Linked DNA regions of Homo sapiens. The protein of the gene in region 2 purifies or fractionates together with the protein of the main gene of each other region. This does not show direct contact. Each region holds a gene or a part of one and is shown on either strand. Other genes may lie near its edges.

The links.
Region 1: the proteins of FAM76B (region 2) and SORL1 purify together in Homo sapiens (affinity purification with mass spectrometry; 2 studies listed by BioGRID and IntAct, with this or other methods). This does not show direct contact.
Region 3: the proteins of FAM76B (region 2) and ADO purify together in Homo sapiens (affinity purification with mass spectrometry; 3 studies listed by BioGRID and IntAct, with this or other methods). This does not show direct contact.

What each region holds. Positions count from the first base shown.
Region 1 is NC_000011.10:121,453,507-121,464,236, forward strand, and holds part of SORL1 (sortilin-related receptor preproprotein), read left to right. Parts: intron 1-10,730. UniProt on the Homo sapiens protein: Sorting receptor that directs several proteins to their correct location within the cell. Along with AP-1 complex, involved Golgi apparatus - endosome sorting.
Region 2 is NC_000011.10:95,770,701-95,781,430, forward strand, and holds part of FAM76B (protein FAM76B), read right to left. Parts: intron 9,249-10,730; coding exon of another isoform or gene 9,227-9,248; coding exon 9,179-9,226; intron 8,988-9,178; coding exon 8,907-8,987; intron 8,436-8,906; coding exon of another isoform or gene 8,426-8,435; exon of another isoform or gene 8,378-8,425; intron 8,258-8,377; coding exon 8,122-8,257; intron 5,324-8,121; coding exon 5,222-5,323; intron 951-5,221; coding exon 861-950; 3' UTR 1-860. UniProt on the Homo sapiens protein: Negatively regulates the NF-kappa-B-mediated inflammatory pathway by preventing the translocation of HNRNPA2B1 from the nucleus to the cytoplasm.
Region 3 is NC_000010.11:62,799,318-62,809,863, forward strand, and holds ADO (2-aminoethanethiol dioxygenase), read left to right. Parts: upstream 1-5,402; 5' UTR 5,403-5,742; coding exon 5,743-6,555; 3' UTR 6,556-9,162; downstream 9,163-10,546. UniProt on the Homo sapiens protein: Plays a vital role in regulating thiol metabolism and preserving oxygen homeostasis by oxidizing the sulfur of cysteamine and N-terminal cysteine-containing proteins to their corresponding sulfinic acids using O2 as a cosubstrate.

The DNA.
Region 1 (10,730 bases), about 26 Mb from region 2:
GCAAAAGTATAAGGTCGGTGGGGGAGAAAAAGTAGGACCAGAGGAGGGGGTAAATACACTTGTTTTCTAGAGTCAAATTGTTCCTTTTGAAGTAGAAATTATTAATAAAAGATTACCCTGAGTTCTGCCTTTTCTCACTAATTTCACTTTAGCCATTTCTTCAGGAAATACAGAGTTAAATGTTCAACCCTTGGATCCAGGACGAACCTTGTAAACATATCACCCTATTGTGTCATTTTGTTGGTGAAGAAACTGAAGCGTGGAATGGTGAAGTGACTAGTCCAAGGTCATACCGGGAAGGTGGCCTGCTCTCTAGTTTTTGTCTGCATTGTCTCAGTGACCTTTGCTTGACTGCAGTCACCCTGTCTTTATGCAATGCTGCTGAAATACCTCCTTTCTAAAATAAAATAGATCTGGTATAAAGGGGGAAAGGATGGTGGTGACTGGGTGGGAGCGTTGGATTTCCCTCCACTATTGGTCCCTGGGCAAGAATGTGTGCCCCAGGGCATGTAACTAATGGTGGCCACAGGCTGCAGGAACCTGCATGCTCAGTTCCTCTTGGGCCCAGATCCTTGTCCCCCTGTCCCCACCCCATATGACAAATATGTGTATGAACAAAAAGAAGTCATCAAGGTCCTTGCTCTTAACAGCGACACCAGCATGGGGCTGATGGAGGGTGGGAGAAGGAGGAGGAGTGGCCCACTTCTTCATTGGGCCTCCGCAGTCAGCCCAGCTCTGCTGTGCTCTTGAATCAGCATTCTGGGAACTGGGAGTTGGGGGCTGGTGGGAGACAATCCCTCCCAGTGCTCAGGTCCCCTGAAGCTATAGTTTAGGTTGAGGAAAAAGTTTTCTGGTTTCAAAAATATGTGTACATGTGCCATTTCTTTCTTGGGTTTGGTTTATGAAAAGCTCCAGGGGATGTGGGGCAGGTTGGACATGAACTCTGTTCTCACTGGGAGTGACTCCCAAACCCTGGGCTTTTGAGTTTCTGGGCCAGCCAGATTGAGTTTGGTTCAGCTGAAGGATGGAGAACTAGCAGTCAAACTCATAATGAGGAATTCCTAACCGGAGGGTGAGGGTACAAGGGTGAGATTTTTCTTCTCTGTGGCTGCCTTCCTATGCCATTGTTGCCTCTTGCTCTGAGGTTAATAAGAAGTGGAATTAATTTGAATCTGTAAGGATTTGAGTCAGATAAAAGGAAGAACTTCCCTGTACTGGGCTTTCTGCCACAAGTTCTATCTGGTGCAGACCCTTCAGAATGCAAGCACAGGTTGGTGACTGAAGGGGTTTGAGGTGCCCCTCTTGGAACTCTGGAGTAACTAACATCTATTTGGAATGATCTTTCTAGCAAGGATGACCATTGCCTCTGTGTTTCCCTGGGGCAGACCTGGTTTCTAAGTTGTCTCTGGTGGTTATGAATAGCACCCCCTTCACTCTCAAAAGTGTCAAGATGTGACAATAAATTATATGGTCCTACTTTTAGCCTTAAGCCAAGTTCCACTTTGTAATCACGACTTTCCCCTTCAACGTTTAAACCTAAGGAATGGTGATGTTTTCCAACAGTACTGCTTGACTTGAGTGTGGTTCTATGGAGGTGCAGTGAGCTGGGGAATAAAATTTCATTCCTGCTTTTAGGAAATTTACAATTTAAGGAGGAGAGCAAGCAGATGCAGATACAGGCATGTCAATGTACCAGGATGGGAACCAGGAAACATGGTCACAAGAAACCAGCCACAACTCTACAATGGTGTGATAACGGGCTGTGTGACATGCAGCGCATGGGAGATGGAGAGATAAGGGGTGGTGGGCTCAGACACTGTCCAGCTTCTTGCCCTCTGACCTTTGAGTGAGGTTAAGAGGACACTGGCAGCACAGGTTAGGGCTGGAAGCAGAAGCTGCCTGAAGGAAGCAGGCCTAGAGGCGATGTTAAGGCCACCACCTTCAGGGAGAAGAGAAGGGAAGGCTTTCTAGGGGAATACTTGCATCTGAGAAAGAGCCCTGTGCTGGAGTCAATGTCGGTCCTTTTTCCTCTGCTTCGCTAATGTCTTGGGTAAACTAGGCTTGGTTATTTTGACCATTTTCCTCCTCAGTTTCTCTAAGGTGGGGAGACCGGCTTCTGCCATGATTACTTAAAGGCACATTTATGATACTGAAATGTGATTGTAGGGGTGAAAATAATTTGCTGGCAGATATCAGGACTTTTCTGCCCATGTTCAAGGCTCACGCCTGTAATCCCAGCACTGTGGGAGGCCGAGGCGGGTGGATCACTTGAGGTCAGGAGTTCGAAACCAGCCTGGTCCACATGGGGAAACCCCGTCTCTACTAAAACTACAAAAATTCACTGGGCGTGGTGGCAGATGCCTGTAGTCCTGGCTACTCAAGAGGCTGAGGCAGGAGAATCGCTTGAACCCCGGAGGCGGAGGTTGCAGTGAGCCGAGATCGCGCCATTGCACTCCAGCCTGGGGGACAGAGTGAGACTCCATCTAAAAAAAAAAAAAAAAAAGGCAAAGTTTAGAAGTTGAGCCCCTTCTTAAAGGCCAGGTCCAAGAAGAGGGATTCCCTAATTCATGCCACACTGAATTTCCTCCTGATTTCTCATAAGCTCTGTCTGTCTGCGCCATCATACCTGCTTTTTCCTCTGCCTGAAATGATCTTCCCCAACTCTTGTCCTTGCCTGGGAAGCTCTTATTCCATTCTTTAACATCCAAGGAATACCTCTTGGTATTCTCAGGCTATGGTGGGAAGAGTTTCTTCTGAGCTTGGAGGCAGCACTTACTGCCTTGTGTTAGAATTGCTCAACTGTCTCATCTTCCTGTTTGCTCCTTGAGGGCATGGATCAAGTTCTCTTGTGTTTCCCTGGCACTTGGGAGGCCCTTAATGAGTATTTGTGGACCAGCCACACACCTGGAAGAAGAGAGGCCCAGAGGGTAGGAAGCACATTCACATTATATAAAATGTATTTGTAAGGAGGAATACAGTGAACCCACACATGGATAGTGAAAATGAGATGGCTCATTCGGTAGTGAGGATGCAAGCGGCATGGCCTACAGATAGTGGAGCCCTGATTTGCCTGTGCTATATGGGAGTTATTTTCAATGAAGAGCTTGGATTCTATTTTACAGAATCCTCCCTTTTAGGGCTATCATTCTGGTTTATGCTAATGGTATTGTTTTGGGGAAAAATCCTTTGGAATAAAGCACAAAGCCTAACAGGATTTACAGGTTTATTTTCCTTCCAACAAGCTCTCTCTTCATAATTCCTACATTTTAGAAGCCAGGGAGTATTCAGTGTCCTGATTTGAGACTGAAAATAAAGTGTCTATTACAGCACAAGGCCCTGGGACAAAAGGCCTCCTTTGGGGGTGGAATACCGTTCAGCTTTAGATCTCTTTTGAGTAGATTCTTCCATGATACACTTGCTTGGGAAAGAATTGGCTGGTTGATTCTGAAGTTAGGATGTTTGACCTGTGTGCTTCCAGAATAAGATGAGAAGGCAAAGAATGTGCTGCTTCAGGTTGGCTTTTATGTAGCTGAAGAGTTGCTCGGGGCCTTGGGTTGGCTCAATAAGGGACGTGACCTTGAAAAGCTCTTCCTGGTTCCACTTGGCGTCTTTTCTTAGGGAGCTCTGTGCCCAGTCTCTGGCCGCTTTTAGTTCATAAATAGCTTGCATGGTTAGAGGCACAGAAGGTGGAGGCTTTGCGAGGGGGAAGGAATGGAGGAAAGGGGTTGGTGAGAAGAGTAAGGAGGCGGAATTTGGAGGGATGAAATAAAAAGCTGTCTGATTAGGTAATGCACGTTTACAAAACAAAATTTGTACAAAAGCGTATGTGGTAACAAATTTCCTTCCCTCTCATGCCCCCTGTTCACCCAGAGCTCCTTTCCGGGTGGCATCCGTTGTTATCAATATTTTTGTATATCTTTCCAGAAACAGTCTATGCATGTACAACATGTATGTACATAAAATTGGAAACTTGAATTATAAATGGCTTCCTGTTACCTGTAGTCCCTGGTATCCTGAATAATGAGATTAACTTTAGCTCTAAATTATATTTGTGATATTATGATGGTGAATTGTTAGAAAATTACCTGAAGTATCATAATATAAAATAGATGATTACTTTTTTTCCAGGCCAGGTGAGAAAAACCTCATTCTCCTTTCACTTCAAGCGTTCTTGCAGAGCAGGAGAGCAGCCTGATGTAGCCCCCTTGTAACTTGGAGAGATGCTGGAGCACAGTTCCCTTGAGATGTGGAGTCCAGGCTTGTAAGAGCATCAGAATACAGTGATCATGGATCTTGGTTTTAATTTGTGTTCTGTCTGAGAATGTTTTCTCTATGTTCTGTAAAATGAAGTTAATGGTATGCTTAATAAATTGCTTTGAGACTTGGGATCCACGAGGCAGATCCTTATAGCAACGAACATCCCAAGGCAAAAGGTGGATGTTGTAGGAACATTTCATTGTCAGATTTTGGTCTGTTCCTCCTTAGAGATGACAGCCATCTTCATAGTGTCATTGTTGAATCCCAGGGCAGAGATAGTTGGAGCCAGCTTTGTTCCACCCACTGTAATGGAGGGACACAGGGGGCAGTCTTATCATAATCTGGAGAGCAGGTAATCCAAAAAATAATCGATTTGCTTTTGCTATGTATTTATGTAGTCTTTTTTTTAAAGCATTCGTTTACCTTCCTAATTAAGTTTTGCTCAGGTGAATATTAAAATGAGTTTGCATTCTTTGATCTATTGATAAGGGAAATGGCTGGCCTAAATGTATTCAGGGAAAGGCAGTTTGGAGTTTAGAATTTGCGACAATAATTCAGATGCAGATAATTGAGAGTTGATAAAAATGTATTAAATGTTTTAAATGAATAAAAATGTATTAAAACCTGGGGGCATTACATTGACCTTTCCTCCATTTATTTGGATTTAAATAAATGTGATGGAAAGTAAAAGAGAGCTCACTGCATTTTTGGTTTGAATATTCAGGGATTAGTATTTCTCCAGAGGTGGTCTGGGCTGTGGGGGTGAGGCATTCTCTGTTGATGAGCATGGGACTTTCCTATGCATTTTCTAGGTATGCCAGACACTGTTGGCAGATGGTATAGTCAGTCTAGCCACGTACATGCAAAAATCAATTTCCCTCAATTTAAAATGAGCCACAGTTAATTTCGACCTAATTTATTGGCTTATCGACCTGTGAACCCTGGGCCTTCGAAGAAGTGGCATGGGCGGCCTTCAAGCGCTGAAGTGGCTGATGAAGCTAAAATCCAGAAAAGGCAGGGTGGGCTGCTGAGCAAGATCAAGATTTGAGTTTCCTCCTGTGTTATTGTGAGATGCTCAGTTTTTTTTAACTGTAACATGACCAATGCTTTGTGCATTTTATGGTGGGTTCCGTAAAAATAGGACTGCGTAACGATCACAAGTACACTAGTGTGTTAAAAAATAATTACAAAGTTCTGTTATCCACTGGGTAACTGTTTATTATAATGGTAACATCCATGCCCATAGCACTGCTACTAGCCAAGAGCTGGAAGATCCTATCTTCCTGGCCGCGTCCTGGACCCTCCGATGTGGCACTGTTCAATAGATCTTTCTGTGATAGTGATGTTTTCTATCTGTGCTGTTCACCATGTTCACTAGTCAGATCTGGCCATTGAGCAGGTGAAATGTGGCAAGTGTGACTGAAGACTTGAAGTGTCTTTCATTTAATTTTAACGAATTTAAAGTTGAAATAGCCACATGTGGCTCTTGGCTACTGTGTAGACAGCACAAGCTTTGACAAGGCCTCTTCTTCCCACCTGTAGGCAACCTCTGCTTCACCCAAGAGAGAAGTTCCTGCAAAGACCTGCTCGTGTAGGCAGGGCAAACAGGGCAATAAAAGCAAGAGTGGAGGGCTTGGGTCTAGACCCTAGGTATTGGTGGCTGCTGACTGCCAAGTTGAGTGTCAGGAGACAGTGGTCCTTCTTTCCTAGGTAGGAACTCACCAGGGGGACCGTGGAGGGCCAAGTGGGTCCGGTGGTTGGCTCTAGGGCATGCCTCTGCACAGTTGCCTCCTTCTGTCAGTCACTTAGTCAATGAAGGCTGGCTATTCATAGGGTGAACCAGATCTCTGTGGCTTCACTTCTCATCTGGCCTTGCGCAAACACTGCACTTGTATCGGGCTTTGCTAAGGTGGAGCGCAGACCCTGCACGTTCTGTTTAGCAATGAAAGATGTAAACAGTGCCTTAACAGTGGGGCCATCTCCCTGCCCTGCCCTTTGCTTCCTGTGCTTTTGTTGACTTACCTTGATGTAGCTGGGTCTGTCTTTCTTCCCTTCAACCCTCCAGATTGGCATGAAGACAAACACTACAGGCGTGTGGTCTTCATCTTTGCATATAAACCTCCCCCACTTCTTGGCTGACCTTTTAACTTAGCTTGCCATTGCTGTTGCTGCTGCTGCAGGCTCTTAGCTTGGAAAATCAGGACCCTTCACAATGATTTATCTCCAGTCCCCTGAATTAGATTCAAAACACAGCTACGAATTCTCAGAAAGGCAGGCTGATGTGATTATATCCCAAATCTGAGTGGCTGACAAGGACAATAAAAAGATGTACCTATATCAAATGCATTTGTGCCGTGTAGAGACCAATATGTTGTTTATTATCTCCCCCCCTTTCTGGGGGTTTTTTAAATGAAGAAGGTAACTGATGTGACCTCTATTATTTAGAAGAGAGACTAGCCTGTTGAGTAGAAACCCTGGGGGAAGATGACTAGGGTGAATCTTACATGAAATAAATGTGGGGGTGAATCAATGGGTGGGCCCTCAGTTGGGATTTTAATATTTTAGGGATACTGAGATGATTTCCTTCTGACTTTGGGGGGCTGGTGAGCTGAGGTGTAGTGTCATGATGAATTTTTTTTTTTTTTTTTTTTGAGACAGAGTCTCGCTCCGTCACCCAGCTGGAGTGCAGTGGCTCTATCTCGGCTCACTGCAACCTCTGCCTCCCAGGTTCAGGCGATTCTTGTGCCTCAGCCTCCTGAGTAGCTGGGATTACAGGTGCGCACCACCACGCCCGGCTAATTGTTTTGTATTTTTAGTAGAGATGAGGTTTCACCATATTGGCCAGGCTGGTCTCGAACTCCTGACCTCGTGATTCACCCACCTTGGCCTCCCAAAATGCTGGGATTACAGGTGTGAGCCACCGTGCCTGGCCTTGGTGAAATTTTTAACTCTGTGCCCAGAGGCATTGGAAAGGCTGGTATGATCTGGTTGAGCCTGGAGGGCCCTGGGTTAAGAGCCACCTGTGGAGAAAGGCTAGCTTGGGGACTGTGGCTGGGAAGACTTTAATAGGTACCTGTGAGATAGCAAGCTATAGGGTTAAGGTCCCAGATAGTTAAGGACCCCATTTCTCTATTAGCCCAGGAGACACATGCGAGACAGTTCCACCTGTCTCTGCCCCAGGGACCTGGGGAGAAAGGCCAGTGCTGATCTGCCCAAGGATCTCAGCCAAGGAGCCCGAGATGGCAGGGAGTGGGGACAGAGCAGAGTGGGGTGAGTGTCCTGTGAAACCAGAAGTGTTTGGAAGGACTTGCATGCTTTGAACCTGTGCTCAATTAATTGAGTAACCTGAGACTCTGTACCTATGACTTACCTCATCTGTGTACATTTAGTTCCCTGAAATTCTCTCACTGAGTGGTTAAAAAAAAAAAAAATCTGCAGTTAACTGTGCACATGGTTTGCTGAATTTGGCAAGGTGTGCTGTTGGTGGTGGTGGTGATGGGTGGGCTGGAGGGGGACGGTTACTGCAGAAACAAGGCCTTCAATCTCTAGAGGAGAAAAATGAAGCAGTGGATGTGGAAAGTTGGTTAGAGGTGAAAGAGCTATCTAAACAGAGCTGGGGGAGTTTAGCTAGCAGACCAGAGCCTGTGGGACGTCCGCCTGTTGCCTCACCTCCTGGTAGCCCAGAGGGCATCTCCTATTACTGAGAAATTGGCCAAGCCATGGGTTTAATGCACTCCCCCTTCTCCATTAGTCTTGTTTATAGCTGCCCTCACAGGGTGGTGAAGAAGCCACTGGTAGGGTATAGAGGCCTTCGGTTCTGGGATGTAATGTTTACATGCTTTTCTCTTGGAGTTAGGAAAGTGCTAGAAAACAGTGTCGCCTCTGGGCTGGAGCCTTGGGACCTGGAGGTTGGGTTTCCCCAGGTTTCAGAGTTCGGCTGGGAATCAAGGAGAAAACTGCCTGTGAGTTTCAGTTAGGCAGGAGCTCCTAGCTTGACTCAGGCGTGCAGTGTTTTGTCATTTTATATATGTCATCGCTTGCTCTTAGGCCTTTCGCTAATGTTAATGTTCTATGTGGAGCCGTTTTGTGAGGAATGGCTTATTTTGGTTGAGAGGCATTTGGTAATGAAAAGAAATGATGTTTTAGTGCGTCGAAGTTTATGAAATGACATCCACAGGCTGCATCTCATTTGATTCTTACGACAATCTTGAAAAATGGGGAAGATAAGAATGATTATTCATCTCATTTCAGAGATGAGTATCTTGAAGCTTGAAAAGGTGAAGTGACTTACCCGTAGTTAGACAGGTGGTAAACCGGAGAGAACAAGACTCAAACCAACCCGCTAACTTGTTTCAGATTTATGCAGGCATATTTGTCTATCCTAAGTAATCTAGTGAAATTTTTGATCTCAAGCAGGGATCCACAGCTTTTTTGCAGTACTTTTTTTTCTCCACCTTTAAAACCTGGAGATCTCACATAATTCCACTTTCTCCTGGCCACACTGATCTTGTAATTTTTCAAACACAGCAAGTCTCAAGGCCCTTCTCCTTCCTGGCTTCTGCTCTGCCCTGCCTTAGGTCTGGGTCCATGTTCTCTGCCTCACTTTTCCATCCCCTTTTCCCTAACTCCTCCCTCTTCATCCTTATGGTGTCAGTACATAGGTCAGGTCTTCAGTGAAGCCTCACTCTCTCCCCGATATGAGGTTAGGTCCCCTGTGTAACAACAGTAATTCAATCATCATTCCTGGAATTAGTTGTTTAATGCGTGTTTTCCCTACTATATTCAGAGCTATGAGGCAGGACCTAGAATCGTGTTATTTTTCTTTCTTTTTTATTTTTTGAGACAGGGTCTAGCTCTGTCGCCCAGGCTGGAGTGCAGTGGCATGATCATAGCTCACTGCGGCCTCGATCTCTTGGGCACAAGCGATCCTCCCACCTCAGACTCCCTAGTAGCTGGGACTACAGGCATGCGCCACCAGGCCCGTCTAGTTTTTGTATTTTTTGTAGAGATGGGGTTGTGTCATGTTGTCTAGGCTGGTCTTGAACTCCTGGGCTCGAGGGATCCACCCGCCTTGGCCTCCCAAAGTGCTGGGATTGCAGATGTGAGTCTGCCATTTTACTAACACCTAGTATAGCATCTGGTATATAGTTAGTGCTTGATAAATACTTATTGACTGAACGCGGTGAGGGGCTATTCATGGTGAAGCTGCAGAGGGCAAGTCTGTGGTCTGGAACCATCCTGAAGAGCTGTGAGAAATGACTTTGGGCTCACAGGGAAATCCTCACGTAGGGCAAGTCCTGGCTTGGGGTGCGCTCTCTTGAGGGGGTATTTGCTGTGCTCACTCTGACTGTGTTTCCTGCACATGGCCGTGTGTTTTCAGGCAGTGAGAACCACCACATTGCCTTAAAGTCTGTCTCTGAGCTTAATCTCATTTGCAAAAGGTGGCATTTCATTTAATTGTTCTCTGAGATTCTTTCTGGCTTTGATATTTTCCTCATTTTTTTTTTGCCAACTGGTAAATTAAGGGGTGATATTATGTTCATGAGAAAGAGAGTTTTCCACAGTTTCTTTTTAGTAGGGAGCCCCTCCCAAAACAGCAAAGCATATTCGCTCATTGACAAAGTGGGTTCACCAGGACAGAGTGGCACACAGAGGTAAACAGTAGATAGGTTCTCGCTGCCAAGGATCAATCAGAAAGGGAAATAAGCTCTCTAAACTGATATTATAAGGCAGTGAGATTATGATTATCATCCTTTTAGCAAAGAGAAAGGAAAGGGCATATGTGTATTTTTCTCTGTAGAATGGTCATGGCTCCAGTGAAGGAGATAGTAGTGAATGCTAAGTTCTAGTCCAAGGTTATTCTCTCCTTGTTTCCTCATCTGGAAAATGGGCAGCCTGAATTCATCAGCAAAGTAGTTCAGGAGTTCTGTAGGTGAAGCATCTTGAGCAAACTCAAAAGTCAAGTGAGTGAGCTGAGATTCCATGAACTGGGCCTCTCTTCCGGGAGTGCTCGTAAACTAGATTTCAGCTTTCCTTCTGAGGTGAGCAGTCCAGGGAGGATAATAAGCCTGCTAAATATAGTGAGAACACAGTCTTGAAAGGGGACAGTGAGAGGCAATTTGCATACCTAGCATTTAAGCCATGCAAAGGGATGGTTTGGGAAAACCTTGTTCTCCTTGGACCTCAGGAGGCTGTCTTTGACTTCCTCAGTTTCGTCATATAGTTCAGGGGAGTGCCTGGCTCCTTCTGTCCTCACAGTTGAAGGACAGGATATTTGTTTTATGCTATATTGTAGAATTTTAAAAACGCTTCTTTGTATTTCACTGCTAGTGAAGCAGAGAAATGAATCAGACTGCCTTATTTGTCCTCCTTGTACTGCGTTTTGGGAGGAGGCTGTGTAGGAGTTGTGAGGACTGCAAGCTGTGGGAGTCTAGGACATCCTGATTTTTGGGTTTGACCAATTTGAAAGAGGT
Region 2 (10,730 bases):
GCATTATCAGTTAGTTCTAAATGTAATCTCAAACATTTTACTAGCAACTTTGATTTCCTTTTGAAATAGGCTTCTGTACATATGCATTTATATACAAACATTTATTAAACATGATTTTAAAACAAAATGTATGTACAAAAGATCAGCATTCCTATAAATAAAAACATTAGGTGGCAAAAAGGCACTTGTAAGTAAAAATCTACAGTAGTTTTTACAAAACAGAAACACATTTTACCTTAGATACTGTACAATAAACATTAATTCCTATACCAATAATGAAAATGCTAGGTTACTAATGTTAATGATGTAACTTTAAAAAACAAATTTACATATATCTGAAGTTCATTTAATAAAAGCACCGTGATTTTCTCCTAAATTCATCTTGATGCAAAGTAAAAACACAATTCCCAAAAAACCAGTGTTCGCCATTTTTCGAGTTTAAAAGTTTTTGTATTTCTAAATTGAAAACTGTTTGTCTGAAATTAGCATAGTGTAAAACAAAAACAAAACAAAAAAACCCTGCTGCTCTGACTTCTGAAACCATACCTACTCTATTATTGCATGTTGCGTTTCATAAAGAGCACTACTCATGCACTCCTTTACAACTGTTTAATACTATTGCTGGCAAAAAAGTTCCTGGATATCAAATAATTAAAAAGTTACTTCAAACCAGTTGAAGTTTTATTTGAATGTTTTACAACTTAAAAAATGCTGTATATCAATTACAAAAGTGAACAGGAAACACACCAATTCATTTGGTGTGCAAAAATATTTTTCTACTACACAGAATTTAAGGGCTTCACAGAATTTTTTTTCCCCAAATTTACATTGTAAGAAGAAATGCTAAACAAATGACTTTCTCAAGGAGATGTTAGTATGCTTCCACTTTTGTCAAATTTTTTACCCTTTGATAATGCTGCGACCTGTTTGAGTAGTTCTCTGTTTTTGGCCTGTGGGAGACAAAAACATTCAAGATTAAAAATGTTTGAAATATTATTAAGTCATGCTGAAGAATACTACTTATTTAATACTGTTTTCATTTATATAAATGTTTCACTAAAGCACTAACATTAAATGAAAGAGTTGATACCTTTACATTCATCTCTTTAAGGATGAACATGCAGAAGGAAAATTCTAGATTGGCTCATCAGCCCCCTTTGTATATGTCATTATTAATATAATTGTGTCCAAAGATGCACAATTGGTTACAAAAAAGGAAACAAAGTGAATCCACTTAAAAGAAGGTCCAAATTTTAATAGGGAAAAGGTGTTTGGCCCTTCATCTTAAAAACATGAAAACTATGAAAATAAGTTGTAATTTACAATTAATAAAATCAAAGAATGAATCAAGATTTGGGAGGAGTATTTCCTGGCAAGCTGTATAAGGTCTTTTTTCTATGTTTACTCTCTTGTAGAACAAGCATAAGAGGTCATTTTTGCAAAAACAACTCAGAATTTGTTACTTTGCCAAATGCACCCAATGATATTCAATTTTTTTTAAAGCACCCATCAGAACCACTCATTATCTTGTTGTTCCTTTAGTTACCAGTCATCTGACACTGATTTTAGTGTGGTTTGAGCAGTTCCACATCATCATTTCCTATCTCATGAAAGCTTGAATTTTTACAAAGATTCAAAATTTCATTTCATCATCTGACTTGAATTTCATTATTAAATGTCCATCCATCACTAGTTTAGTGAAGAGGAATGTGTAAGTACAGTGAATATTTTCACATTTTGACTGCCTTTGTCACCTTATTCAGTCTCTTAAATATGAAAACTTAGATAGTAAGGATCCCTATATATACAAATACATTAATGATCAAGCATTTTTGTAGTTTGAGCCAAAATGGGGAAAGTGATGAAAATAGAGCACTGCCCTAAAATTAACACATTTTAAAAAGATATCCTCTGACTTATGTTTCAACACCATTTTCCTTCACAGGTTCCAGGAATTTTTATTATATAGACAGACTTTTTTAATCTCAGTACTTCATATTTTATTCTAATTTTAGCTTTTTACGGGCAGATAACACTCTGCCTTCTCTGTATGCCATCTTAAAGTGGTTTCATGAAATAACCTTTTTCAAACTTTATTCTTCCATTCCCCCACCCTTCTTCTCCAATCACTCTTGCTAATTAACACCCATGACCTCTAAAATGCAAATATTCTCAGTACTATCTTATATGTGCAAATCAAATAATTTTTTATGTTCAGATGCATGATCAATAGAACTTTCCTATTCAGTGGTTATTAATAACTAAGGTGGTAACGAAAAACTTCAATTTCAAATTCAGTATCAATTTCAAATTTTGAGTCTGCAAATTTGACTCAAAAAGATCTCCACTAGATCTGTTAAGTTATATTTATCTAAAAATGTTTATACTGATACAAAATAGTTAAAATGTGAATCTCCAAGTTCTTATCTCAATTATCAAGAAATAAAGTGTTTATAATTTTCATATTTTAAGTACAAAATACAATAATTTGAACATTAGGTCTTCAAAGCAATTTTTCCATTTAATGCTTTGGTAGCTAATTTCCAATTTGCTTTTAATATATTTATATCACTAATAAAGATATTTCTTAATAAATTACATAAGACAAAAGTCTTTATGGTAAATAAATAACACAATTGTTAAGTACAAGTCCAAATTATTCTAATTTGAATACTTTAAAAATGAATTTTATGCCATATTTCAATATATGTACATTTAAATTGTTTTATCCTAAAATTACTTCATTTTGCAGCCAGCCAAAAAAAAAAAAAAAAATCAATGAAATTCTTTACAGACTCTTAAGAAAGCTAAGTTTTAAAGTTTAGACATGTTGGTGCAAAGGAAAGAATATCAGGATTAAGAATTACATAGATCCTGCTTTAAATCCTGGCTTACTTACCAGCTACATAACCTGGAGCATATTTTCTCATTTGTAACACAAACTCCACCATCCGAACTCAAAATGAGTTGAAGGAACTTATCAAATATATAAAACACTTAGCCTAACACAGTTCCTGGTACACAGAAGGCACTCAAATGTTAGGTCCCTTTTCCTTTTAACCACTTACCTAATTAAGTGAATAAGAGTTTTAACTTGATATTCTTAGTATTTTCAATATTTGGGGTATTTTGGGGTGACATTTTGAACAATTTTTTCATGTGATGTTCAGTGTTTTGTCGTAGGTTTGGCAGTTAAAAATATTTTACTAGCTATTAGAGCAAGATCCATCTTGTGTCACAGGATTCAATTCCTTATTACATAAAGATAAAAAAAAAATTACCGGTTTCCTCACCTCAGTAAAGAATCCTACTAGTATCACTTGGTTGCTAAAGGAAGTGAGGTAAAAAGATGGCACTCAGCTATGACAGATTGTCTCTAGCCATAACACAAAAAAATCAGGGAAGTGGCCTGATAGGAAGGATGAAATAGAAAACCTGAGGAACCTGAAGTGGTGGGAACTAGTGTAGGACAGGGAAAAGTATAGATAAACTGGAGTGAGAAGACAGAGATTTCTACGTCACCGCTTACTGTGTGATCACAGTTTCCTCTGTAAAATGGGCATATCACATAACCCAGTTTTTGCAACAAGTAAGACAGCATATGTAAAATCATGTCAAAATGTCCTATTTAAATATTGGTTACTTTTATACTACATGAAACTTCAATTACCAAGAGGAGGTAGGCCTAAGATATCTATCAGGCTAAGTCAAAGATGACCCCATGTATTTGCAACTATGATTTTAAAAAAGAAAAACCAACACACAAACTGCTCTTTTGAACAGTGGGGAGCACTAAGTTAAAACATATCTGAGCACCTATTGCAGTTATTCTGTTATCTCATTCTGGATTTACTTCAGAGCTTTGGTTACATTACATTAAATCAAAGATCACCAGGTGGAAGATTTTGTTCCAGGTAATCATTCAGCATTAATAACTGAGTAAGAAAAACAGGAATAACATAAAATTAAAAATAATACTTGCTGGTGGATAAAAACATTGACTAATATATAAGAATCTGATATATGATACGGGCAATCTCTCAGAACAGAGGGCTGATGGGCATTTCCATAAATCACCACCTAGTCAACAAATTATTTGAATGCCTACTATGTCTCAGGTTCTACATGAGGTTCCTTTTTCAACAGTCTTTGTAATAGTATGATAGGGATTAAGACCAGATAATCTGTACCTCGAATTTGAGCAAGTTCCTAAATCCTACTAATTTAAGCTACTTGCAAAGAAGTATGAATAATACAAAACCAAAAGAAAGAAATAGCAAATATCCTTTGGTGTTACAATGTGAAAAAAAAAAAACAAAATGAAACAGGACAGTATTAACTCCTTCCTTCTGAAGCTGTACTCTCCCAAGTCTGACGTCTGTGTGCTGCCATCTTCCATTAACATTTAAAACTTCTTTCACCTTAAAAATTTTGTTACTAAAGACTAATTTTACAAATGTGAGACTGTATAAATCAAAGAGAACATGTAATTAATTTAGTGTGGTCTGATTTCTAAATGTATGAAACCTAGAAGAGAAGCAGCTTAATATGGTAGCATTCTGTATCCATGTTGGATGTTCACCATCTCTGCATGCCAGACATCAGATTATTACTGTGGTGACTCTTGACTTTACCATTCAGTTGTTCTGTATACTTAAACTGCTACTTTGCAGTACTCTGAGGTTCAGGTGGATCACTACCTGTTAGCATTTAGCAGAACCCTATTTGGCACTTTGCGAACCACTGTACACAGGTTAAGTAAACTCTCTTGCTTTGCACACATTTTTGCCACTCCAGGTCCTTAAGAATTGGTTTTATACACCCATCTCCTTTCCCATTATCTGGAAGGAAATATTAATGTGAGGAATGATTGCTACTGAAGACCTGCTTTTCACCTTAGTTTCATTAATCTGATTTTTAATTTTTTGCTATAAGCCCAATAATTAATTGAACACACTCCAATGATACCCTCCTCCAAAAACTCCATTTGAAGTTTAGGCAAAAGTTTTCAAGATTAAAGTACTGAATCCCCCTTTCAAGTAATTTCAAACAATAACTTCTAATGAGATCAAGATTAAAAATGATTATAAAGTCAAAATCAAAACTGAAATGCACCAACTATGCACAAAATAGGGCTACCAATAACAATCTAAGTCAATGAATGCTATTACTCAAGTTTAGCCCTTCTTGCCTATCATTTTACGTAAATGATGGTAGTTACCTGAAGTTGTTCCACAGTTTCTTTGTGGGCTTTTTCCATACTGTTCATTTTTGTTCTCAAATTTGACTCTTGGTACTGAAAGTCTGCCTTTAGTTCAGTTAACTGAGAGATTAAAGAAAAAATATATGTATATATTTGCACACATACACACACACACCATTTTAAATAACTTTCACAATAAACTCACATTTCATTACAAAAGTAGAAGATGTTAACTGCAGTTTCCTGAATTGTACAAGCTATCTAAAGTTTGTTTGGTGAAATGATGAAGTCTATCTGCTTCACAATAGTATAATTTTAATGTTAATACCTGACCATCAGTAAAACTTCTCAGTTTTCTTTTTTTCCTAAACATGGCTCGACTGGAAATAGAGTTTGGCAACTGGTATGCCAACGAAAAAAGCTTAACGGCTAATAACTGGGAAAATGCCTCATTTAAAAATGTACTTCAATAATAGTAAAAACAATATAAACATTTAAACTAGCTTATGCGTAAAATAATCTTTCAATGCTTAAAGAAAGAAATTTCACACTGGGTAATATAAAAAGGAATGGTCTTTTCAGCCAAAAGCTACACTGTTTTCATTTTTTAATTTATGTCCAGGATTATGTACACAATACCACCTAACACTTGAGGTAAAAATAGAGAACAAAGCACAGAAATACAACTAACACAGAATGAGAAAGGAAAGAAGGTTACTATAAAATTTGGGCTAAATTAGACAAATACAAGAAAAAAATCAGTGCTTTGAGGAAGAAGGCTACATGATAATTTTTCATAAATGACATACCTAACAGTATAATATCTCATGACTTCAAACTAAATAAGTTATTATGTAATTTCACTATTAGAACCATGCAGAGGGAACTCCAGGTTATTTTTTAATGTTTTTCATTATGCCAGCTTTAAAGGTTTACACATTCTCCTTTGTAATTACCCAGTATCTAATAAACTGAAAGACATACAACAGCAAAAATAGAGAAAATCATGGAGTCTTATAGTCTTATTAAAAAAAAAAACCCTTGCTTTTGTCAAATTCAAAGTATAACTAAGTTCTCTCTCTCTAACTTTCTCTAATCACAAAAGATTTTCTGTTCTGAAATGCCAACATACACCAGATCAGCTAAGACAATTACTCTATTCACTACACTGTGAGTTGCCTCCTCACTATGAACTTCTGGAAAATAAGAATTATGTCTTATTTATTCATCTTTGTATCCTCATGATCTAGTTCAGTGTCTGGCTCTAGAAATCATTAAATAACTTTGTGAAATCAATTCAGTAAAATAACTTCATCATCTTAGATTTATAAGAAAAAGTTGCAAATGTATAGTTATTTTAGGTTTACCATTAGGATTTTCCTTACAACAATGCTAATTTCAATCCCCATTAGTGTTGTGATTTTTTTAAAGAGGAACACTAACAAAAGCAGAAAACTTCAATTAACTGCACAATACAAAGATAGTACCTCTTATGCTAGAGAGGAAAGAAAAATCTAGCAGTCAATATTCTATAACTGATTACTACTTGGTTTTGAAATCATTGCTATTTTGCAGTAAAGTTGGCATTTTATTCAACTTTTCTCAAGGCTAATGCAGATATATCTGGCCTGTCTCTAAAACTTTGTACACAGGACAAATTTCCATAAAGGCTCATTAATTTAAAAAATGCTGTCAATCAAAAAGAACCATAAGACAAAGACACCCGTAACTATCCTATTTTATATGTCACTCCTAATTTTCATATACTAAATTTGCTTAAAGTAAGCTACAAATGTATTAAAATAAATTAAGCCCACTAACCATCAAGGTGTGGCAAAATGTATCAAAAATTACTGAATGCCAGAAGTAAAAGCCAACTCAGCACAGACTTAGAGATGGATATAAGTCATATATGTATTCATATTAAGGCCTTATTCTTTTAAAAGAAATGATTTTAGTGTTCTCCTACTGCATAATACATTTGATACAGGTCAAACTACATTGTCTGGGACCATAAAACAAGTACAAAAGATGATCAAACAGTAATAGCCCCTATGGGCACTTATACATACCAGGAGCTATAATAAATACTTTGCATTTTCATTAATCATCAAAACCATCACTTCAGATAATATTAATGCTCTCATTTAAATGAGAAAACTGAGGTCCAAAGAAGCACACATTCTGCTTTAGGTCACACAGAAAATGTTAGAACTAGGATTTGAATCTAAGTATGGCTAAATTACTTCAAAACTGTTTCCTGTTCCATGCCTGTCCACTATTGTGCCATCCTGATTTCATAGCACAAGACCTTAAATCCTTCTGTAATTCTGTTAATATTCCTCTTTTCACTAAATGAACAACACATTTTAATATTCCTCTTCATTTAACTGATGAAGTCCCAATAAGTACACTTACTTCCTACACAATGAGCTTTTAGACATCTATTGCTAATTACTATTACTGACTACTACAGGAAATTCCCATACCATTACTTTTCAGCAGTATTTTGATCTGGATTGATACAAATATATGACTGGATTGATACAAATATATGAATGTTATATCAAAGACTGTTCAAACTACATTCTTAAATCAAAAAAGTTTATGAAATATTCCATTTACATCTCATTTTTAATTAGGTATTAGATCTATTTTTAAATTACATGCTTACTGAAAATTAAAGTTTGGAAATTACTATCCTAATTAAGCCTCAGTTAATTCTTAGAACTAAAAATCTGAAAGACCATTTTTACCCATCTTCATTAGATGGCTTCAGGGGCTTTTGTAATTTGTCTTATAAAAATCACGCACAACAAACATTACCAAATTATTAAAGGAAGTCTAATAAAATTTGCGATTATCAAGCAACAGTCAACACATAACTCTTACCAGGCTTCAATGAACCATGTTCTTACCTTTTTATCTTTTTCTAAAATGGTCTGGTCTCTCTGCTGTAAGAGACGCTTAAGTGACATCACTTCTTCTTTCAATTGACTTATAAGGACAAAATTGTCTGTTCCCCCACTATCTGCTGACTGATTTATAGAGCTACTAAAAAGAAAAAAGTAAAACACAGTTAAATGAAGTAGAAGGAAAATTAGCAGGTGTTCAAATTGCATAAATTAGACAATTCCACAAACATCCTTAAGGCTAATGCAAAAAAATATGTACCTGACAGAAATGGATGCAACTGGCAAATTACCTTACTAATGGCACACATTACATACACCTGCAGAAATATAATTCAGTATTAGCTTTAAGGGGGTCAATACTTCTAGTGTAAAGCAATAGGCAGCCAATTTGTACAGTAACATCAGCAAACTTTTGGCTAATGAACTAAAACAAAGTAACGCTCATAATATTTTTAATCTAAAAACATTTTCTAAGCAGGTCAATTTAAAATATCACAATTAGATTTGTGTTTCACTGAAGAATAAAGATAAAAATAATGTTCTCCATTCAAATTTGTTTCTTCAAAACCCAAATTTATTTCCCAAATAGAACAACATAGTTCAGTGCCACTTTCTTATTGCCAAAATTAAGCTAAAAATTTTAAACTAATTTATGTTTATTCTTCTAGGTGACTCAAGTCAATGTAGAAAATACATGTTTCTATTTTTTTATCTAGTAATAACTGGCATTCAACCATAACTATTCAACTAAGTTGAATTTTCATAACACTAAAAGAATTCATTTTTACCTATCTCCATTAGATGGCTTAGATTCCAATTTGGGCTTTTTCTTTGGAGTTTCATTCTGAATTGTTGCAGAGGATTTATGGCTGAAACCAAACATTAATAAGAATAGTTAGAGTAAAAAGGACAGAGAAACCAAATGATAAGTTATTCATCTTCCCCTAAAATATTACTGAAAATACTGATTTTGGTAAGACTTAAGTAACAAAGTTGAAGGGATATCACATTTATAAATATACATTTCAAAATACTTCAGAAAATACAGCAATGTATTTACCTCTGTTTCCACAGTCCCTGCTCTTCTTCTGGACTTAGATTGCTGATTCTGAAAAATACACAAATGACATCTAATAATGACATTTATTTATTTAATACATCTAAATTTAACATTCTTTCTCAATGGATACAAATTTTATGTTTATAATATTTTCTTCAGAGAAAGGTATATTTAAGTTTTCAGACTAAGCTAATACATATTGAATAAATCACATTCTGATGAAATAAATTTTAATAAAATGACTGCTAACCATCTCAAGTTCTTCAAGAATTCTTTATAATCAGGATCTCCACAGTTCAATTTAATATCATACAAAGGGTGGGTTACACAAGTAGTTTTCGTGCTTGTGTCTAGGTATCACTGTACTTTGGCTGCCCTTACTATTTCAGACACAAAATTTGTATCTTTAAAGTTAAGGCTTTCCTAATAATCTGAAGTAGAGATTCTTCTTTTGGAGTAACTCAAGTTGCTCAGAATAGTATTTCAATTTAAATGGGGAAATATATTGATTTCTTTGATTCTTTCCTAGTTTTCTTAAGAATCCTCTCCAAAGTCCATAGAGCTCTCTTTAGTTAGTATTCTGGAGAAGTTACGCTGAAACTATTGAGAAATTTCATAGTAACAAATTATTTTACTTTTACTCATAATTAATACTGTAATACTCCTTTTCTATTTTACCCTAATACTAATAATCACTTTATAATTCATCATGAATCCTTCATTTTTTTCCTCCTAAACTTGCATATCAGTCAATGCTTCACTAACCCTAGCTTATTCACTCAGCATGTAGAGAGCATCTCCTATGAACCAGATGCCACGTATTTATACGATTTAGAAGATGTTAGAATACCTGAGCTGTGACCTTATGCAAATTACTTAACATCCCCAGCCTTAGTTCCCTCATATGTAATACATACCTTATACTGATATGAGCATTAAATGAGTTATATATGTAAAATCACTTAGTACAGTGCTAGCATATACAAAATAGACATATATATATATACATGTTTACTTGTGTCTAAAATTTACTATTGGTTCAGCTGTAGAAGTTTTTTAAGCAAAAGAAAAAAACAAACCTTAAGACTCAGCTGTAAACAAGTACCAAGTTGGGAAAAAAATGTTAATAGCAATAATTCCATCAAGTGAGTTATTCTTACTTGTGAATGAATGGAAATCCTATTGAGGAATGCAGTTGTCCCTTTTTTTTTTTTCCCACAAATTTCATTATAAGCCTAACAAGCCATACATGAACTAACAGCACTAACCATATCTCAAAGTTAAGAATAATCACATTAATATCACTGACAGAAACACTTGGAATTCCCATCTTATCTTTCTGAGGGTTGTCCATTCCTAGATTCAGACCCACCTTAGTGCCACCTGGCAACCACATCCCCTACCCCTGCCGATCACTATCTATCACAATATGAATGCTCCTCATTTTCATTCTGATCTATTGAACTTAAGATAGGACCCTACAAAGTAACTGTTCATCAAATGGTCAACAGCCATCAAATAGAAAATAGTGTTTGTATTTCATAAGTAACCA
Region 3 (10,546 bases), on a different chromosome or scaffold from region 2:
TAGCATATTTAGCTAAACAGCCCGTACTCCAAAGTGATATGATTTCAGACAACCACACAAATTTGAACTAGAGTAGGCAGAGTTACTTTATAAGATCTTAATGGAGATAGACACAGCTAAGAGGATTATAGTGTAATAATTTTAGGTAAATGAAAGAAAATACATATGTTTGGTTTTGTCTGAATCAGTCTTGTGATTGTCTCTGTCCTCCACATTGAGCTAATGAGATGCCAGAAGGAATCTTACAGATAGATCATCTCTCACAGAAACTGGGATCCAGCGAGGGTGGACTTGCTCGGTAACACACAGCTAGTCAGTGGCAAAGCCATGACACCAGCTCCTCTGACTTTGAAATTTTTATTTTTTTCTTACAACATGACATTCATTCATAATAAGGAATGAGAAATATACACTCATGTTTTTTAAAAACTGAAAGGAAAGCCACAATATGAATCCAAAATACTTCAAATATAATTATGAATTAGTCTGAAAATGGGGACATTTTAATCTATTTATTTACCATGTTCTATACTAATATAAAAGGCAGATATCGGAATAAGGTGGAAATGACTACTCGGGAAAAAATAAACCTTAGTTCCCACTTTAAAAACAAAAACAAAACAAAACTGCAGACTAGGAAGTCTGAGCATGTGAGAATACCATTATAATCTTTTGTACTCTTTCCACTGGATCTCAGTGTGACCAAAAGAAATGGGCAAATGAATTCTGAAGAAGATTTGAGTAAAAGCCAGAAGGTAATGTATCTTGTGAATTAAAGAAAATCAGTCCTCATAGAGTCAAGAGGTAGGGGAAGAAGAACGAAAGGCAAAAGCACAAGCCTAGTTCCCAAAGAATGAAGAGATCATAGAAATGAACAGGTGGAGTTAAATCCATATAGGCTGGGGGCTCTTCCAGCTCTCCTTGTTTCCTGGTTAATTAAGCAACTGTAAAGGAGGAGAAAAAAAAATCTCAGCTTTACTCATGGTTCTGTGTGCTTCCCTCATTCCTAAATTTAATAGATGTGGGTAGGAGGTGGGATTTAAGCTGTATCAGTCTTACCTATCACCACAAAGCTGTCAACCTGTGAAAGAAAAAACATGGAGAAAATACACTTTGAAATAGATTGCTGAAGCAATAGCTCATCAGCAAGCCCTGTCAGCTGTACCTTCAAACAGATTCTTATCCTTACACTAGTTCTCTTGTCTTTCTTCTGGATTACTGCCCCTCATTCAGGTTTCCCTGCTGTTACACTCGCCCCACCACCAACCTCTTAAAAATGTAAAACAGATCAAATCACTCCTCTGCCCAAAGCTCTCCAAAGACTTCTCACTGCATTTAGAATAAAATCCAACTCCCTACCACAGCCTACAACTCCCTATTACCCCCTCCCACAGCCTATAAGGCCTACATAACACAATCCCTACTGGCCTCTGCACCTGCATCTCCCTCCAGGAACCTGGAAGCTCACTACGCAGTCTTAACCCCGCAGGTCTTCATCTTCTCTCCTAATTATACCAAGTTCCTTTCTACGTGGTCAAAGTTGTGATAGTCAATACCCTGTTAATAATCTTAAGGATGTTTCCTGGTCTTGGAATGCTCTGACCCCAGATTTTTCCATGGCTAACTCCTTAACATTCAAAAATAGCTTAAATGTTAACATCTGGTCGCTCCTGATAACCCAATTTAAAGTAACATACCACACACAAATAAATATCACACCAGTCTATGACTGTGTTTTACTGTCTTCCTAAGTTATCTCTGTCTGAAAAGTATGTTGCTCATTTACTCGCGCTGTATAACGCTTCCATCCTCTCAAACATACACATTTACTCGCAGGTAAACTCCTTGGGAATTTGGACTTTGTCTTCCTTTGTTCCTTGCTGAATCCCCAAAGCCTAGAACAATGCCTGGTACTCAGTGGATACTGACTGTTTATCAAACGATTGATTTTGTCTATCCTAAACTTTCCCTAAACCTTGTCTCTGCCATGCATTTTCCTAGTATTTGTTCACTATCACTTCTCTTCCTGTCTGTTCCCTTTCAGAATTTCTTTTGGTCTCCATTTTGCTTATAACAACACTGAAGAATTACAGAATCAACAAGGATAAAAAAGAAGGATGTTAATGCTAATAGAAACCCACTCAGCCTATGCTACTGGCAGTGGGGCAGAAGGGCAAGTAAACTGCTTCTTAAGGGCAAAAGCCCATAGAGTCAATATCACCCATTAGTGCAGCTCTGAATGAAGGGCAACATCAAAAGGAATTATGGAGGTAGACTCTTTGTGACCTAAAAAAGTACCACATGCCCTGTAGACACTCAGCAGTTCTTACAAACTTTTTTTTGAGAGACAGTCTCACTCTGTTGCCTAGGCCTGGGTGAAGGGGTGCAATCATAGCTAACTGCAGCCTTGAACTCATCAGCTCAATCAATCCTCCTGCCTCAGCCTCCAGAATACACTACAGGCGTGTATCACCATGCTCAACTAATTTTTTAATTTTTTTTTTTGTAAAGATGGGGGTCTTGCTATGTTGCCTAGGCTGGCCTTGAACACCTGTCCTCAAGCGATCTTCCTGTCTTGGCCTCCCAAAGTGTTGGGATTACAGGCATGAGCCACCATACCATGCCTGCCTGGTTCTTAAAATTTTTAATGTGCAAAAGATTCAGATGCAGTAGGTTTTGACGTGATCTGGGAATCTGCACTTTTGACAGACACTCCCAAGTGATTCTGATACAGGCAGTCTTCGGAAACTTTGAACTCAGGCCAAAGGATGACTAGCAAATTACCAGGTAAATGGTTTAAGCAATAATCTTTTTTATCTCTACCCTGAAGCTGATTCTCAAAACAAGTCAAATTCCATTTCAATACTTGCTTAGTATTATTTAAATTCATTGGTCTTTAAGTACAACTTATAGCCATTTTAAACCTATAATAGCTACTGTCATGGGGCAGCTACTATGTTCTACATAGTGTCATCAGTGATTTACACAGGTATATTATCCCATTTTATAGATGAAAATTTTGAGCTTCAGTTAAGTAAGTGTGGACAACCATTAAGTGCAAGAGATCTGCATGTTAATATAGTCTGTGTTCCATGGAGTCTATACTTACCACTAATTATACCCTAATAGAAGTAAAACCAATAAATAAAAGTCCATATTTGTAAATAAAGGAAGGGGAAGAATTTTACTCTCAAATACTTCTCACTTTAGAAAAAAGACTGTATGAAATTTATTTATCAGCTTTGAAAGTACATTTAAATAACGTAACAATGGCATGGCAACCTCTAAAAATGAATCAGTCTTAACAATCCTTTCCTAAAGCAAATAACCACCCTCTTAACTAATGAAAGCTGGTTCACTATTTACAGCTCTACCAGTGGTTCTCAAACTGAGCTAATGATCAAGAATCGCTTGGACGAGCGCCGTGGCTCACGCCTGTAATCCCAGCACTTTGGGAGGCCGAGGGGGGCGGATCACGAGCTCAGGAGATCGAGACCATTCTGGCTAACATGGTGAAACCCCGTCTCTACTAAATATACAGAAAAAAAAATTAGGCGGGTGTGATGGCGGGCATCTGTAGTCCCAGCTACTCCGGAGGCTGAGGCAGGAGAATGGCGTGAACCCGGGAGGCGGAGCTTGCAGTGAGCCGAGATCGCACCAGTGCACTCCCGCCTGGGCAACAGACCCAGACTCCGTCTCAAAAAAAAAAATAATAATAATAATTGCTTGAGGAAGCATCTTAAATATAAATCATAGGGGCAACCCGCTGTGGTCCCCTTCCAAGCTGTGGAAGCTTTGTTATTTCGCTCTTCACGATAAACCTTGTTACCCCTCAAAACAAACAAACAAACAAACAAAAAAAAACCACACACAAAAAAATAGGCTTCACTCCAGTTCTTCTGAATCAAAATCTCTGAGGTGTGACCCCAAGATCTTTATTTTTTAAGCTCTCCAGGGGGTTCTGATGAGTAGGGTTCAGAACTTTTGTTCCCTTAACACCGGCATTCTACAAATGAATAAATTGAGGCCCTAAAAGGGTAGGATTTGCCTAACGACACACAGCTTGTAAGTACACACAGTAGGCTGGAACAACAATATCCTGACTCTCGTTTGGTGCTTTTACACCAATTCAAGCTGCTGTTTTTGGTAAGACTGTACTTATTTCTGCTCTGCTGCTCATGCTTTGCTGGGTACTTAGTATTCACTATCCTACAACTTATTCCCTCATCTGCAATCTGGGAATAATAATAGTGCCTGCCTCTTAAGAGTTGCTGCAAGGATTAAATAGTATAACATTCATTATATAATGCACTTAACACAGTGCCTGGCATATTGTGAGTACTCATTAGCCAGGTTATGTAATCCACTTTAAAAAGTATGCCTATTTTAACTGGAGAGGATTCACTGAACCACTCCAATTACAAAATGTACAAGAAACCCATGTTCAGCTTTGGAATCCAAAAAGACTTTAAACTCAGGGTTAAGTTTAAAGTCATAGTATCTAATGTCTTGCTTTTCTAGTCATTTACTTATGCCAAAAGTTAGTTCACGCCAAGGAGAAGGATGCCTCTGTGTAGTGAAACAATTTCACAATTACTGACTGAACTGACTGTTGCACACCACTATTTCTCCTAGGATGCCTCAGAACCATCTAGTAACTCCATCTCTGGGTGACGACAGGGAATCTGCATTTATAAAAGCCCGCTCCCCCTTCTCAGGCAAACCAAGATTTGATAACCACTAGTATGTTCAGAATCCACGACCACTGTAAATGGCCTCTCAAGTCTCTCCAGCAAAAAGCTATACTGCTCTGTAACCAGAAGAGCAGCGTCATCAGGTCCTGATGCAAACAACAGCTGGGCCCAGCTGGGCCCAGCTGGGCCGAGTAACCTTGATGATCACAGAGGACGGCCTGGACCCCCTCCCCTCCTAGGAAACACAAAATTATAAAAGCGCCCTCCTGCAATTCCCGTGGGAGACAGTGCTGCCTAGGCCGCTACGAGGAGCTAAGGCTGACTCAACAGCCTCCTTCCCAGGGGCAAGGCCAAAGGAAGGCGACCCTGCATGGCTAACCAGGCCCCAGCGCGGCGCCAGAAGGTTAACGACCCTCCCTGCCCCTTTCCTTATGAAGGCCAAGAGCCTCCACTACTCCGGGGGCCAGCTGACGGAAGTGCGTCACTCCACCCTGCGGGGAGTGCCGGGAGTTGTAGTCAAGTGGCTACTAATCTTCCACCCCGATTCATCTTTTCTAAAACAAGAAAAACACCTCTGCATCCTGAAAAAGATCGCTTTATGCCCAACATGTGTAATAGTTCCTCTATTTTCCAATCAACAAACTGAACTATCTCAGAGCTCAAGCGGAAGGCCGGACTACAAGTCCCGGCATGCTCCGCAGGGTCCCCGGGCGCCCGGCCACCGTCGTAGGTGCGGGCCGCATGAATGGAGCGCCGGGCGTAAGGCAAAGCCTGGCACCGTCTGCGCGGCCGCTATCTGCTCCCGGAGCGTGAGTGCGGGGTGTGGGGCGTGCGCGTGCGCGCTCAGAGGGGGCTCAAGGCGAGCGCGCCGGGCAGTTGCGGGCGCGTGGCTGCTGAGGTTGGCGGCGGTGCCGCGCGCCCGACGGGCCGGTGGTTGCGGGGCCTCCCGCCTCGACCCGGGCTGGGGGCAGCCGTGGCGGCCGCCGGGGACCGCAAGGGGCGGAGGAAAGGAGGGGGCCGGTCCCGGCACGCAGAGGAGCAGCCGACCATGCCCCGAGACAACATGGCCTCCTTGATCCAACGGATCGCCCGCCAGGCTTGCCTCACCTTCCGGGGCAGCGGGGGCGGCCGCGGCGCTTCCGATCGCGACGCGGCTTCTGGCCCGGAGGCGCCGATGCAGCCGGGCTTCCCCGAGAACCTGAGCAAGCTGAAGAGCCTCCTGACCCAGCTCCGCGCCGAGGACTTGAACATCGCCCCGCGCAAGGCCACACTGCAGCCGCTGCCGCCCAACCTGCCGCCAGTCACCTACATGCACATCTACGAGACGGACGGCTTCAGCCTGGGCGTGTTCCTGCTCAAGAGCGGCACGTCCATCCCGCTGCACGACCACCCGGGCATGCACGGCATGCTCAAGGTGCTGTACGGCACCGTGCGCATCAGCTGCATGGACAAGCTAGACGCGGGCGGCGGGCAACGGCCGCGGGCCTTGCCGCCCGAGCAGCAGTTCGAGCCGCCGCTGCAGCCCCGGGAGCGAGAAGCCGTGCGGCCGGGCGTGCTGCGTTCGCGGGCCGAGTACACCGAGGCCAGCGGCCCCTGCATCCTCACACCGCACCGGGACAACCTGCACCAGATCGACGCCGTGGAAGGGCCTGCCGCCTTCCTGGACATCCTGGCCCCGCCCTACGACCCGGACGATGGCCGGGACTGCCACTATTACCGGGTGCTGGAGCCGGTCAGGCCCAAGGAGGCCTCCAGCTCGGCCTGTGACCTGCCTCGAGAGGTGTGGCTCCTGGAGACCCCACAGGCCGATGACTTCTGGTGCGAGGGAGAACCCTATCCAGGTCCCAAGGTCTTCCCTTGAAGCCACTGGCGCCCAGGAGCGGTGGGCCGAAGACGTGCCCTACCCTACCACAAGGGCTGTGTCTCTACCCCCTAGCCTGGGCGTTGGATCTACTGGAATGAGCAGCAGCCGCTTCCTCGGCAGCCTTGGGAAGCACGGGCGACTGGACAGCAGCCGCCGGGCACGGTTATGGGGGCGGGGTGGGCGGGGAGGCTAGATTGTTTCCTGGTACTGTCACTGCCACTGGGGCTTTGATTTGGAGGAATGGGGCAGGGGACTATCTGAAGCGCTTCCATCCTAAAGCCATAATGAAAATATCTTCCTCTCTTCCCCATTCTATACAAAATACTAAGTGGTTTTCTTGCTCCCACTCCCTACCCCTTAGTTAAATAGGGTTTATTTTCCACTCATGCCCTTATGCCTTTTTTTCTTATAGTTTTTTAACTTATTGACTGTGCATGACCCAGTGGTTTGAATTGTTTTTAGTTCAAGTCATTGGTAAAAACTAGGTTTAAGGAGATGAGCTACTGTTTAAAGTGAGCTGGCCTGCCTAATTAATTCCTTGTGAAAACTAAATGATTTTTTCAGTTTGGGGATCATTCTCACAACATAACTATGCATGTAGAGGACAAGATTTATTTTCTTTCCTCCCTTTGCCCAGTAGCCACATCTGGTTTACTCAGGCAGCATCTACTAAGAAATTCAGCACCTGCATATCTCTGTGACATGGTCACTTAGAGCTTATCTTCCCTATGAATCTCCAGATCTGTGAGTCGAGCAGATTTCATGTTGCAGATTCACCTTTAATGCAAAGACTGTATTATCCTCACATGACTTTTTTTCTTGTCTTACTGTACCTTAAAAGGTGATAGAGTAATTCTGTATTTTCTAACGGGAAGATTCAAAGGAGCTGAATGTGTTATGCTTCCAAACAACTGAATGTAAAACACTCCTAGCCAGTTGTTGCATTCCCTATATTTATTTACTTCCAATATTTTACTGTAAAAGTAGGGAGAAATATTATGTTGATAGTTGTTTCATATTCTCTCAGGAACTTTAATGTTCCCGACTCGGGTGATTCCAGCTGTGTTGCTGGCAGTGTTGTCTCAACCCTCTCCCTAAAATGACTGAGCCCTGGGTTCATCTAATGTGGTTTTCCTTAGGAAGAGATAGAAGGCACAGAAGATCACAGCTAGAGAATTGAGAATTAACTATACTACTAGCCATTTTAGGGCACCAAAACTTGGGATTAAACACTTCCTACTTCCCACTCCCAACTCCTGAAATGAAGTCTTGCTATCTGTGACTAGTTTTATTTTTGTGCTTTTAATAGTCCGAGCAGTCTTACCTTGTTTACACATGTATTGACACCATTTGCTTCAGGCCATGGAGCACTGTTTCTCCCTTTTTACTATTTATAGGATTCCGTTTTTTCACAAGACTTTTAATAAAAAGAAATTGTAGAAATAAACACATTAAAATTTGCCCAGCTGTCGTCTAAGCCCTCTTGATTGACTTGCCCAAGTGGCAATAGAGTTCTAATATCTATAATAAAGGGAGATTTGCTATTATTAGTGGAATGTTGACCCCGTATGTAGAGAAACAGTACGTGCCTTTGCCTCTTTATGCACACAGAGACCCAGGGTGAGGGAGTATTTGTTCCCAGTTTTTAAGATAGTATAAAAAAGCAAATACTTGGTGAGTGATTTAAAAATAAAACCAAAACAAAACACAAAAAGATATTCCACAGGACATGCCACTTTATTATAAAACCTGACACAGGCATAGTACCAAGTATTTCCTGCATTGTTGCTAAAATTGTTTTATTGTAGCTCCACATTCTGGTGTAGTTTAAAATGCCTTTGGGGGCAGTTTGAAGCAGTTCTTCATGCCACTTAGTTTGAAAATAAAATTCTAGATATGCAAATGATTTTCTTAGAAAACTTCACAAAATAAAAGATCTTGTTTTTTTTTCCATAGCACAGTAATGAATGTGGTTATCAATCACATACTTTTTTGGATTATATTGTAGCAAAAAGTTGATTAGCTTACCAAGATTATTAATAGCAATGTATGTGTTATAATACAACTTAGTACATTAAAGCTACGAAAACTCATCCTGGCTGTAGGATAGTAATAAAGGAAGAATTATGACTTCATTATGAAAAAAAGAAGTTTTAAAGTTTTCAATTACGAGCAATTTGGAAGAAAAAACCTAAGGTGCTTTTCAAAAGAGTAACTGAAATTGTTGCAGGCCAAAACAGCAATATGATATCTCAGATTTAGTTCAATAAGAACAGTGAAACTTTTGGTTCACTAATAAATTCTGAGTAAATTAGTGGTGAAGACAAAATATAACTTGTTTTAGTGAGCCACTGAGGAAAGAATATGCTTATTACAAAGACAAAATGTGGTGCAGAAACTATCTTGCACCTGTGTGCATAAACTGTTAGTCGTGACTGACTTGGTGTGTTGCTATTGTGTTTCTATATACTCCGTCCAATATAGATAATGTTTTAATAACAACTGTGGGATAAAAGTTATCTTCCCCTTGGAAAGACTAATGAGCACAATGATATTAATCACTTTTATGGTGAATAATAAATGCAATAATTGCCTCATGGGTGAGAAATTGTCTGTCTAAATGCTTCTGAAGCTTTTAAAGTATCTGGTTCTGTCACTGGCCAGTTATATCAATGCAGAGTATTGTGTACCTACTTACTATTTTATGAGAATTGATTTTTACTAAGCCTGATTTGAATGGGTTGCATTTACACCAACTGCTATTTATTAATGAAAGTGGTAGCCTGCTTTTTAAGTAATATGTGTTTTGGCAACAGGAGAGGGTTTTCTGAGCTTTTAACACCAGTAACCCTGAACTTCTTCCAAAATCCACACCTTTTATTCCCCCTTTTCCTTGTCTCCTTCTAGGTGCCTCAGTCCTGGCATCTCGGGAGGACTCTGCCATTACTCATCTGTTACTGATTCTGAATCTTGTGCTCTAGCTCTACAGCCCAGTGAAGAAGCAATATATCTTTAATTCAGGGCTTGCCTCTTGCTTTCCAACTCTAACCTGAGAGCAGTGCTACTTTTGTAATTGCAGGTCTAAATAACTTAAGCGTATATACAGAAGCCAATCACTGATCACTTCCATTGCAATGAGGCATCTGTTGTCAAAGAAGGAAACCATTTGTCAAGTCCCTTATAGATATTGAATCTTCAAACCCAAATCTGGGGATGTTTACATTTCTGGATTAAAATCAGTGTACCTGTAATCCCAGCACTTTGGGAGGCTGAGGCAGGCAGATCACCTGAGGTCAGGAGTTCGAGACCGGCCTGGCCAACATGGCGAAACCCCATCTCTACTAAAAGTACAAAAATTAGTCGGGCATGGTAGTGGGCGCCTGTAATCCCAGCTACCTAGAAGGCTGAGGCAGGAGAATCGCTTGAATCCGGGAGGTGGAGGTTGCAGTTAGCCAAGATCATGCCACTGCACTCCAGCCTGGGTGACAAGAGCAAGACTGCATCTCAAAAAAGAAAGGAAAAAAAAATCAGTGTACTTATGGAAAATGAAGACATGTTTCAAATTGTTTAGAGATAATTCTTACTTGATTATTGCAAGACAGATAGGGAAAACCTTACCTGCTCTGATGTCTACAGTTTGATTACCATGAAAGGTTCACAGTATATACTGTAAGATTATGTTGTACTAAAATCTAGTGGCCTTCTGCAGATTTCTAAAGCCCAAGTAATATACACTTAAAAATAGTTTATTTCCTTGAGAGTGAGCTTTGAAACAGCCTGAAGGAAAACACATCTGAAGCTAATGTCTAATTGGACTATTTTGCTGTAACAGAAAAAAGCTTACTTTGTATTTAACCTAAGGAAAATAAGATAGTACTATACAAGAAAACAAAAATACTTTCATTCTGGAAGGAAAGAGTTTTAGGACTTATTTTCTTTCCTTATTTTTTGTTTTGTTTTCCTGTAGTATTTGTTTAGTTTTAGCTTC